3 linked regions of the Homo sapiens genome follow. The protein of the gene in region 1 purifies or fractionates together with the protein of each later gene. This does not show direct contact. Each region holds a gene or a part of one and is shown on either strand. Other genes may lie near its edges.

What was found.
Region 2: the proteins of PIGT (region 1) and GID8 purify together in Homo sapiens (co-immunoprecipitation; 3 studies listed by BioGRID and IntAct, with this or other methods). This does not show direct contact.
Region 3: the proteins of PIGT (region 1) and MKLN1 purify together in Homo sapiens (co-immunoprecipitation; 3 studies listed by BioGRID and IntAct, with this or other methods). This does not show direct contact.

The regions. Positions count from the first base shown.
Region 1 is NC_000020.11:45,419,125-45,422,774, reverse strand, and holds part of PIGT (GPI-anchor transamidase component PIGT isoform 1 precursor), read right to left. Parts: intron 3,481-3,650; coding exon 3,380-3,480; intron 3,303-3,379; exon of another isoform or gene 3,272-3,302; coding exon 3,185-3,271; intron 2,640-3,184; coding exon 2,552-2,639; intron 2,444-2,551; coding exon 2,346-2,443; intron 2,248-2,345; coding exon 2,082-2,247; intron 1,393-2,081; coding exon 1,192-1,392; intron 1-1,191. UniProt on the Homo sapiens protein: Component of the glycosylphosphatidylinositol-anchor (GPI-anchor) transamidase (GPI-T) complex that catalyzes the formation of the linkage between a proprotein and a GPI-anchor and participates in GPI anchored protein biosynthesis.
Region 2 is NC_000020.11:62,940,997-62,944,646, reverse strand, and holds part of GID8 (glucose-induced degradation protein 8 homolog), read right to left. Parts: intron 3,157-3,650; 5' UTR 3,145-3,156; coding exon 3,027-3,144; intron 1,661-3,026; coding exon 1,464-1,660; intron 1,153-1,463; coding exon 955-1,152; intron 1-954. UniProt on the Homo sapiens protein: Core component of the CTLH E3 ubiquitin-protein ligase complex that selectively accepts ubiquitin from UBE2H and mediates ubiquitination and subsequent proteasomal degradation of the transcription factor HBP1.
Region 3 is NC_000007.14:131,442,873-131,446,522, forward strand, and holds part of MKLN1 (muskelin), read left to right. Parts: intron 1-608; coding exon 609-830; intron 831-2,901; coding exon 2,902-3,031; intron 3,032-3,650. UniProt on the Homo sapiens protein: Component of the CTLH E3 ubiquitin-protein ligase complex that selectively accepts ubiquitin from UBE2H and mediates ubiquitination and subsequent proteasomal degradation of the transcription factor HBP1.

The sequences.
Region 1 (3,650 bases):
TTAAAGGTTAATTGATGCAATGTCTAAGATTTGCTTTAAGATATGCCAGCAGGCAGCGGCTTACACCTATAATCCCAGCACTTTAGGAGACTGAGGCAGGAGAATCGCTTGAGGCCAGGAGTTTGAGACCAGCCTGTGCAACATAACAAGACCCTGCCTCTGTGAAAAAATTAAAGGCATGGCGGTTCATGCCTGTAGTCCTAGGGAAGCGGAGGTAGGAGGATTGCTTGAGCCGAGCAGTCTGAGACTGCAATGAGCCATGATCATGCCACTGCACTCCGGCATAGCTGACAGAGCAACAGTCTGTCTCTTAAAAAAAAAAAAAAAAGGCTGCAGGGTGTGTACAGGGGATTATTACACTATTCTGTTTGGGTTTGGGTTTGAAATTTTCCAAAGGAGAAGATTTAAAAGAATAATAACAGAAAAACCTATAGAATATGCAGTTAGGATGTCTGAAATAGAGATTTTGAAGGTGGTACAAATAATGGTGCTGAAAATAAGTGAAACTATTCACCGTATGTTTGAAAATATAGGAATCAACTAAAGTACTGAAAGGTTTTTAAGTTTGGCCGTTTGGGATATGGTACAACCTCTTCCTCAGAGGTCTTTTACTTTACTACTAGTCTCCCCCTACACCAAAGAAAGGCAAGTGCTTTAGTGCTATGCCTGGCACCTAATAGGAAGCACTAATATTATCTTCTCCTTAGAAAAATAATAGAAAATAAAAATAAATTTTAATAAAAATAGAAATAAAAAAATTTAATTAACTGTACCTCTTTACCCCTCCCAAGGAAGCAAAACACCATCTACTCCAGCTCTGCTATCTTCCTAGCTTCAAAAGCCTAACGTTGCCAAACCCTTTCCCTACCTTAAAGAGTCTATGAATCATCACAAAACCCAATGCTCCAGAAAGGAGGCAAAAGTAAGTGAAAAAGGAAGCTACTGTCCTTGTACAGTCCTATTAAGAATCACCAGTATTATGTGTTTTAATTATTGCTGTTTTATAAATTACTTCTGAACCTGGCACAGTGAGGCTCCCGTTCCAGTTTTGAGAAACTATTCCTTACTCTTTATGCCTGTGTAGCTTTTCAGAGGTACTTCAGGAACTACCCTGGGAAATGAGAGTTTGGGGGACCTGGAGAGGACATGAGAGGGCGGGCTGGGGGCCTGGTTCAGGACTCAGGTCCTCACTTGGTTTGTTCTCCTTGCCCTTGGAGGTGATGGTGAGGGTGTGCACATACAGCCGCAGATACCAGGGTACGGTGTCCAGCAGCAGCACCGGGAAGGCCCGGTATGGGTGGGTGTTGTACAGCAGTGTGCTCAGCTCCCCCTTCTGCAGCCCATAGCCACTCACGTACCGCTGGGCATGCAGGAAGGGCACTGGGGGGGCCTCTGTGTAAAGAAATATCAACAGTTAACAGCTGCCAAAGGTAAGAATCACTCCCCACCCCACCTGCCCAGGCCATGTTCAGAGTCCCAAGCCAGTGAGTAGATGGGGAACAGCCCTGCCACTGAAACTGGGCAATCTGGGTTCTGGAATCATCCCTGTCTTCCCCAGCCAACAAGCGATGATGACAATAGGTTGCTAGTATTGAAGTGCTTACGTGACGAACACCGTGCCCCCTTCGAACCCAATCCAGGTCCTCTCAGGATATTCTGCTCTTTCCCTTGGTAAGGGAACTGAACACAACTGTAATTAATTAACTGACACCTGCCCTAGCTAGTAGACTTATATTTCTTGAGTGCAGTGTCCTCTGTCTTATTCAACACTCTATGCCTGGCACTTAGTATGAATTCAAAAGTATTTGGTTGATTAAGCAAATGCATGAACTAACTCCATTTTTCACATCATCTCATCCAATTTGCTAAGTATACTCTATTTTTCAGATGTGGATGCTGAAGCTTGGGGAGTTTAGGAACCTACCCAAAATCGTAGAGCTTGGAATAGCTACAGTCAGCAGCATATGACTCTGGAAATCTGGTCTAAATACAACCCAATCATCTAACGGCAAAGACGTGGGATTGTGAGTCTTTTCTCTGTAGCCGTTGCAACCCAGCAGTCCAACCAACCACCCACTCACCATTCTCTGGGGGTCTCTTCCACTTGAGCTGGATGTTGAGGTTTCGAGAGTTGTTGATCATGGCGGTGTCAAGCAAGTCATAGATGGCATAGGTCTTCCGAGTGCCTAGGATGACGTCCTGATATGTAGTGGTCGGGGGTGGGTGCACCTCTAATGTCTCGTTGTCCTGGGGACACAAAGGCAGGGCTAAGAAGCAAGCAGAGAGGGTAGGCTGGTCCTGGGGACCAGCGGTGTGTTTGTGTGTGTGGCTGGAGACCTTGTTACCTGGTTGTAGGTGGTGATGTCCACATAGACTCGGCTCTCTGAAGCCAGGGGGCAGGGCTCCGTGAGGGTTCGGGAGAACATCCGGAAGAGGGACCAGTCTGAGAAACAGAGCGCAGGGCTGAGCAGGGGCCAGGCCTAGGCCTAGTCCACATAGATAAGGCAGGGCTGGCATGGGTGGGTACAGATGAGTTGCCAAGGTAACTTACCTTTCTTTCCCTGCCCCGTGATGAAGGCATCAAATACAACTGACAGGGTCTGCCTCAGCTCCCAGGAGATGCTAGTACAGCGTGCATTCTATCACAAGGGCCAGATGGCAGCAGTGAGGGGGTATCACTCTCACCACACAGCCCCCAAAAAGACTCCTACTCAGACTCAATCCCTCATCTATGTATCTTCACATCCATCGATTTGCTACCACCCACTCCTGAGCACTTGACCTCGTGCCAGACCCCGTGCTGACAGCTGTATGTGCATCAGTTTGATAAACTATCACAACAACCCTAGGAGTGGATTCTACTATCAATGTCATGTGGCAGGGTGGGAAACCAAGCTCAGGGGAATGAAATGATTCACCCAAGGTTACGCCAGCTGGCAAGTGACTGAGCTAGCAATTGCACCCGCATAGCTATTGTTCTGAACCACTATTTTCCATGACAAATATTTATTCAGTGCTTGCTAGGCAACCACTGTTTTCTTGGTGCTTGGCCAATGCCCTGAATAACCGTCATCACATCTACCACTCAGTACTCACTCAGCCTGAGCCAGACACTGACCACATGCTTTACATGTACCTTCTCTGAGCCCCTGGATGGCAGCTTCCTCTACTCCCCATGACTTACTCTGCAAACAGGGCGGATATGCACTGCCTGGGAGTGGTAGCTGGTGTGGAACAAGCGATCTGCCTTCAGCAGCACAGAGAGGCCTGCCTGGAGGAGATGGAAAGAGATAAGAGAAGCCCTGTATGGAGCACTTGGCATGGGGCGCAGGTTCTCTATACACCCCCCGCCCCCGGCTGCCAGGCTCTGCGGCCTCACCTTGGAACTACAGGGCAAGAGCTTCTTCCAGGGGGTGAGGTTTTCGGTGCAGACCACCTCCCGCGGCAGCACAGCATAGCGCAGAAAGTAGTGGTCAGTGTCTGAGGGAGACAGAGGTCTGTCTGGGGTGGGCCTTGGGCTCTGACCCCTCGGGATCCACATTCCAGAGATGGGAATGACCCTCCTGCTCCCCACACCACCTCTAGCACCACAGTCTGGACAGTCCCAACTGGGAGTAGGACTCCCTTCTCTCCTTGGGAAAAGGCATGCA
Region 2 (3,650 bases), about 18 Mb from region 1:
CTTAACTGCGAGACACTCTCAGGACATGAAATACATAGTCCTTGCCTGGGGAAGCTCACAGTCTGGTTGTTAAACGTCACATGCAACCTCGATGGCAGTTAAGTGCCATGAGCAAGCCTTGAACAAAGTGCTGAGGGGACTGGGAGAGAGGTAAGACCAGCGTAGCAGGACATACCAGCACCCTCCTCACAAGCCTCAAGAAAACATCTCAAGTGGACTCTAGGACAGGCCATCCTTCCAAGACAGCGTAGGGAGGACAGAGCCCCCGGGAGAGGACCCGGGGGAAGAGGGACCTGGGTCTGGGAAGGCGAGGAGCTGTCATGTTCTGCCAGACAAAAACATAGCAGCGAGGAGAGAAAAGTTTCAGAAGACAGGATTTTAAATGAGAAATACTTGGGACATAAACAGAAAGAAGGTTCAGATAAATATAAGACACCAGCAAAGGGTGTGAATACTGTGTAACGATCACCAAGTCCGTTGTCCCTAGTTTGACAAGATAAAAGATTAAAAGCCAGAGAGAGGCTGAGCATGATGGCTCACACCTGTAATCCCAGTACTTTGGGAGACTGGATCACCTGAGGTCAGGGGTTCAAGACCAGCCTGGCCAATATGGTGAAACCCCATCTCCACTAAAAATACAAAACTTAGCTGGGCGTGGTGGCACACTCCTGTAGTCCCAGCTACTTGGGAGGCAGAGGCAGGAGAATCGCTTGAACACAGGAGGCGGGGGTTGCAGTGAGCAGAGATCTCGTCACTGCACTCCAGCCTGGGCGACAGAACAAGACTTCACCTCCAAAAAAAAAAAAAAAAGCCATGAAGGAACCACTTAGCATCCCAGGCACAGAAGCCACCTGTCTCTCAGTCCACACAGCAAAGCCACACACTTGGCGTTGTCACGAAGCCCCCTCAGAGCACATGGGGAATGGAAGAAAGCTTCCCTCTGGCAGGCCCCACCTTCTGCCTCTGCATGGTGTGGAGGAGGTCTCCGAAGGGCGACTCCTCGGGACTGTCAAAGGCCAGCAGTGCCAGGGTACGCTCCATCTCTGTGAGGCACTCTCGGCTCTCCTCGCCCTGCTCCGCCAGCTGAGTCTGTGCAAACTCCAGCGCCGCCTCTGTCTCCCGCTGGCGGATCAGCTCGATCAAATGCTGTTGCTGGAGGCAGAGACAGACAAGCTTGACCCCCACACACCCAGGCCAGGGACTTAGGGCAGGTGGTACCAGGTCCCAATCAAAAGTACATCACAGAGGGAAGACTTTTCTTGCATCTCTGAGTTATCAAATTTGCATTTTTAAAACAAAAAACCGCTTCTGAACTACATAAAAGAGCAAACTCAAACCTCTCCCCCTCACATGCATTGAAATAACATTATTAAAGCAAATTAGCCTAGTTATTTCTCAATCATTGCAAATAACTTTAACTTATCAAGTATTCACAAACCAGACTACTCTCTCCTGAAACATACCTGCAAATGGAAGTAAAGATACCGGTTTGTGTCCAAGAGCTCTGGGTGGAGGCTGTTGATCAAGGCGATGGCCTCCTGAATCTGACCTTTCAGTATCATCTCCCGGATCTTGATTCGTTCATCAAGTGTTTCCAGATCCACACTAGGTTCGATTCCAGATTCCATTCGAAACTTCTCCGCTGCTTCCTTAAAGCCCTCTGAATAGAAAAACCATCTTCACTGCTAGGAAAGTTAGCAAGGAATTAAGGCAAAGACTTTGTATCTCCAGAAACTCCAATTGCCTCAATTAATAACCTCTGATGTGAACCACACTTTCTCAGGAACTCGGTATTAATATCTTTATAATTTACAAGTTATGCTCTCAAAATACATATAGAAAATGAGAAGAGTATACTTCATTCCTTGTTATCCCATCCAAAAACTCTAACCCATTAGCCAAAGAGGTCAGAATGGCTGCTGGCCCAGTGTGTTGGTGTGGGCTCCTTTGAGAGGACAGATAATAGGTCCAGACGCCAGCAGCCGCAGCTCTGGTGCCAGGTTAGGCAAGTCACACTGGCTCAGCCTCCACAGCACAGGGGCCCTCCATGGTCAGCTATACCTGCAGTGGCCTGTTGACTCCCACCTCTTAAGAGTGTCTACAATTTTTCAAAGCCAGCATGTGTGCCCCTTCCCCTGCCCCTGACATAATTATAGGCCTAAATTTCCTCTTCACCTTCCAAAAATATTTTTTTTGAGATGGGGTCCCACTCACTCTCCCAGGCTGGAGTGCAGTGGCACAATCTTGGCTCACTGCAACCTCCGCCTTCCGGGCTTAAGTGATCCTCCCACCTCAGCCTCCCAAGTAGCTGGGACTACAGGCACAAGCCACCACATCCAGCTAATTAACATTTTTTTTTTGTAGAGACAAGGTCTCACTATGTTGCCCAGGCTGGTCTGGAATTCCTAGGCGCGAACAATCTTCCTCTGTCTCTCAAAGTGCTGGGACTATAAGCATGAGCCACCATGCTTGGCCCAAAAAAGTTTCACAGAGATTAATTTGGGAGAAGGAACTGGGGACTAACAGGAGGGAGATTTTTCATGTCATGTCTTTTAAAAACATCTATTTTCTTGCCATATACAGCACTGCCCTTCCTCCAGTTGACATCAAGAACAGCCTGACTGTTATTTCCCTCTGCACGCTTCTGCTCTTCCCCATTCCCATCCTCTGAGTTGGGCATACTTTCCAGAAACAGGCCAGCATATTTTTGCAGACTGGCCAGAAGAGATCAACTATTTAGGCTTTCAATATACTTACTTCACAACAGTCTCAATTATTTTGAGTAACTGTAAAACTGTCAAAGGCTGAAAAATGGGTTTGTGTTAGGTCTCAGAGACCTGGAAAAATCTCATCTTCAGAAAAGGCTTTCACATGATAACTTCCAAACTTACCAGGTTAGCATTGTGTTTTCATAATGTCTGAACACAAATAACTACGTCATCAAACCTCAGTGCTACAGCACTCCTTATGTGTTCAAAAAGGGAGAATCACATTCATGCAACAGCATCCTCACTGTAAGCCATTACCTGTGACCAGGTAGTTCATGATGAGGCGGTTCATGTCTGCTCTCTGGACATGCAAGTTATTGAGCTTTTCCATCCACTCATCTTTCGTGATTTCATCGGGTTTTTCTGCATAACTCATTCTGATTTATTTCTACAGGAAAAAAATAACAGCTGAGGGAGGGGTTTAGATGCTCCTCCAAGGGCAGAGGGCAGCGCTGGAAGAGCTGTGAGCCGGAGAATCCCACACTGAGCATGTACGGAAAGACAACGCTGCCGTGGGACACCCACCAGACTGAGAATGCCAATGCTTAGCAAAGAATAAGTTCACTTCAACTTTTTCTACTCTGGTATCAGGAGAACGGACTGTGCTACAAAAACAATCTGGTACTCCTTACAAAGCTGAACATGTGTGCTCCTCACAACCCAGCAATTCTACTTTTAATACATTTATATTCTAGAAAAACTCACCAGGATGCACCAAACACAGACAACGCTGTTCACAGAAGCACCGTTCAAAGCGGCAGGAATGTGGAAGCCACCCACCTGAGCGTTCATTCAACAGCAGCGTGGACCAAGGGACTGTGGCGCACAGAACTGCATGTTTAAAACCCTTGGGCAGATGGGTTTTGGAATTCAGAATTCTTC
Region 3 (3,650 bases), on another chromosome or scaffold:
TATAGCTTAATTCAAAGAAAATTAAATAGTGCTATGTTAAAAGTAGGCAGAGTTCTTCACATTGTAGAAGTCAGTCTGGAGACTTGATTGTTGTAAATGTCCTTTTGTTTGTTTGTTTTACTGTTTTGTAACATAATCTGAAGGGTTTTATAAAAATAAATGCAGAGAGGTGAATTTAGCTTCACCACTCTTATTTGCATATCTGATCGCTTAGTAAATGGTAGTAATATTAATAGGATGCTTGCCTAGAATGAAAGAAGGGAATTTTTATAAGGAGGGTATGATCACTATTCACCCAGAATATAAGTATTCACTCTTACATATAAATCAACGCCTCATGTATCATTGGTTGATTTTGATAAAAATTATGCAATTTCAAGAAAGCAGAAAGCTCTTTATTCCAACATGTTTTTACCCTCACTGACAAAAATGACAACTTGAAAAATTATTTAGAAACTTGCATATGATAATCAGGGGTGGTATTTAGTGTCATTAGGGACAAAGTTTAGGGTTTTTTTGAGAATGTAAAACTGTACATGTTGGTTTTGTTTTAGCACATATGACAGGAACAAACTAAAACTATTCAATCTGTTGCCTTGTTCTGATAGATGTGTATGGACTCAGAAAAACATATGATCTACACTTTTGGTGGTAGAATTTTGACTTGTAATGGCAGCGTAGATGACAGCAGAGCCAGTGAACCACAATTCAGTGGCTTGTTTGCTTTCAACTGTCAATGTCAAACCTGGAAACTTCTTCGAGAGGACTCCTGTAATGCTGGGCCTGAGGACATCCAGTCTCGAATAGGACACTGCATGTTATTCCACTCAGTAAGAACATTCCGTACATTGCGTAAATGTTATTTTGTCATGTATATCTAGATAGGAAAAGAAGTGGTGAAATCTAATTCTTTAGGAAGAGATTAGTGTAGCAATGACAGAGAAAGACAAAACTTCTTTAACAGTGAACTGTTTGCTAATTATGAGACTCTTCCCATCAACCTGGTAATTCCTAAATAGTTACTACCTGGCTACCAACCTGGGCAATCTTATGACTAATTTCACTGCTTATGTAGATTTTGTAGCTATGTTCCTTTCTTATGCCTTTCCACTTACGTCTCTTAGTAATTAGAAGGACAATTTCTTACTCTGTTCTTATTTTCCCTTCTGCTATTCTCCATTAAGTACAAAGAATTTAAGATTTGATTTTATAGAATTAGAATTTAAATGTATCAGCAATGGTCAGGAGCAGTGGATCACTTGATTCCAGAAGTTTGAGACGAGCCTGGCCAACATGGCGAAACCCCATCCCCAGTAAAAATACAAAAATTAGCCTGGCGTGGTGACCTGTGCCTGTAGTCCCAGCCTCCCAAGTAGCTGGGATTACAGGCATGCACCACCACGCCCGGCTAATTTTTTGTATTTAGTAAAGACAGGGTTTCACCATGTTGGCCAGGCTGGTCTTGAACTCCTGACCTCAGGTGATCCACCCGCCTCTGCCTTCTGCGGTGTTGGGATTACAGGCATGAGCCACTGTACCTGGCCACTTTCTTGATGCTCAAATTTTTCTCTTTGGCTAGTAGGAGCACCCCCCACAACATATTTATGTATCTTTTTTTGTAAGAGAAAAATTAAATTGTGAATTCATACTGATATGTCTGATTCAAATAAAATATTTTTTATCTTAATGTCTTCTATTTTGTAACTTTATATCTTTTCTTTTTACCCCGACTGGAGCGCAGATCGTAGCTCACTACAGCCTTGAATGTCAGGGCTCAAATGATCCTCTCACCTTAGCCCCCCAAGTAGCTAAAACTACAGGTGTGTACCACCACACCTGGGTTTTGAGTAGTAGTAGTAGTAGTAGTAGTAGTAGTAGTAGTAGTAGAAGAAGTAGTAGTAGTAGTAGTAGTAGTAGTAGTAGTAGTAGTAGTAGTAGTAGTAGTAGTAGAAGTGGAAGTGGAAGTGGAAGTAGGAGACAGGGCCTTGCTGTGTTGCCCAGGCTGTCTCAAGCAATCCTCTCACCTTGGCCTGCCCAAATGCTAGGACTACAGGTGTGAGCCACCATGCCTGGCCTATTTTTGTGTCTTTTAAGGTTAAAATCCTGCTTCATAACATTAGTTGCTTTGTCTGTCTATAATAGCTTTCACAGTAAAGAAAACTAACAACAGAATCACTGAGTGCTGTTTAACGTTGCTTTCTGATTATTTTTCTGTTTAGGATTTAGACTTCTAGGGATGGGTAGTCAAAAAGTATGTATTAAAATCATTAGAAATACTATTTCTGTGTCTGAGTATATCTTTATATACAGATAGGTTTATTTGTTGGATTTTTTTTGCCCAAATTTTAGATTTTTTTTTTGAGTTAATTTTGTCTTCTAATTAAATAAAAGCATATACATTGTTCTAAAGTCAAAACCATACATCAAGGTATTATTTTTGGAGAGGTCTTCCTGCTCTGTTCCTGCCACTATAGGTAACTGTCTTTTATTAGGTTTTGGTTTATCCTTCCTTTGTTTTTCAAAAAAAGAAGCAATCTCTATTCTCGCTCTCGCTTGCGTGCTCTCTCTCTCACTTTTCCCCTCTCTCACATTCTCTTTCCCTCTCTCCCTCTCTTTTTGTCTGATGCACAGATATTCCTTCTTCTCCATTCCTACACAAAGGAAGAAGGAACCTGTATATATTATTCTGCACCTTGCTTTTCTTCTTTAACAGGATGTCCTAGAGATCCCCTTTTAGCAATATGTAGAGAGCTTCCTCTTTCCCTTTTATTCCAGCATAGTACTCCATTGGGATCTGTTATAAAATTACTTTTGTAGAGGTTTAAGTTTTTAAAGGATCATTCTGAGTTCTTCATGGAAGTGATAAGTTACTCCTTTCTTTTTTTTTTTCTTCTTTTTCAGAAAAATCGTTGCTTATATGTATTTGGTGGCCAGCGATCAAAGACCTATTTGAATGATTTCTTTAGTTATGATGTGGACTCTGATCATGTAGACATAATATCAGATGGCACCAAGAAAGACTCTGGGATGGGTAAGGGCATTGAGTGATTTCTTCTCTCATGTCTTAACTACTTTAGGTAGAAAACTGCAGTTCATTCTCTTTTCTTTCTAATCATTTTTCACCCTTTCTTTATTTCTTTAATTGAGTAATTCCAAGTAAGAGAAAGAAAATTCTACCAGCTTATTCAGTTCTATCTATTTTTAAATATGGGAATTACTATTTCCTTCAAGCAGAAAATATGTGAATTTCTAAATGAATTGTGTGTGTGCTTGTTGGGGGGCGGGGTAGGAAGAATCAATATCTTAAAAACTTTTTATTCTGTGTTTGCTAATTTTTTTCATCTTCTATTTTCACTGTAGTGATCTTTATATTAGGCACTAGCATAGTAGGGTGTGTGTCTTAAGGGGGGAACTTCATGGGATTGGTAACACCTTGTAAGTTTAAAAGCTCAGCATCTAGGAGGTTATTAGTAGTGGAATGGCTGGTTTGCTTAGATTATGCATATTGCCCTGGCATAATTATTAATAGTGCTCCATTCATTTTCAAAAGTGTCCTGTTTTGATCATTTATAGTTACCCTACATAGTAGTTGCTTTGCCTGTGATTATTGTACCTAAAAGAGTGGCTTTAATTAAGGTGCAATGGTTTAA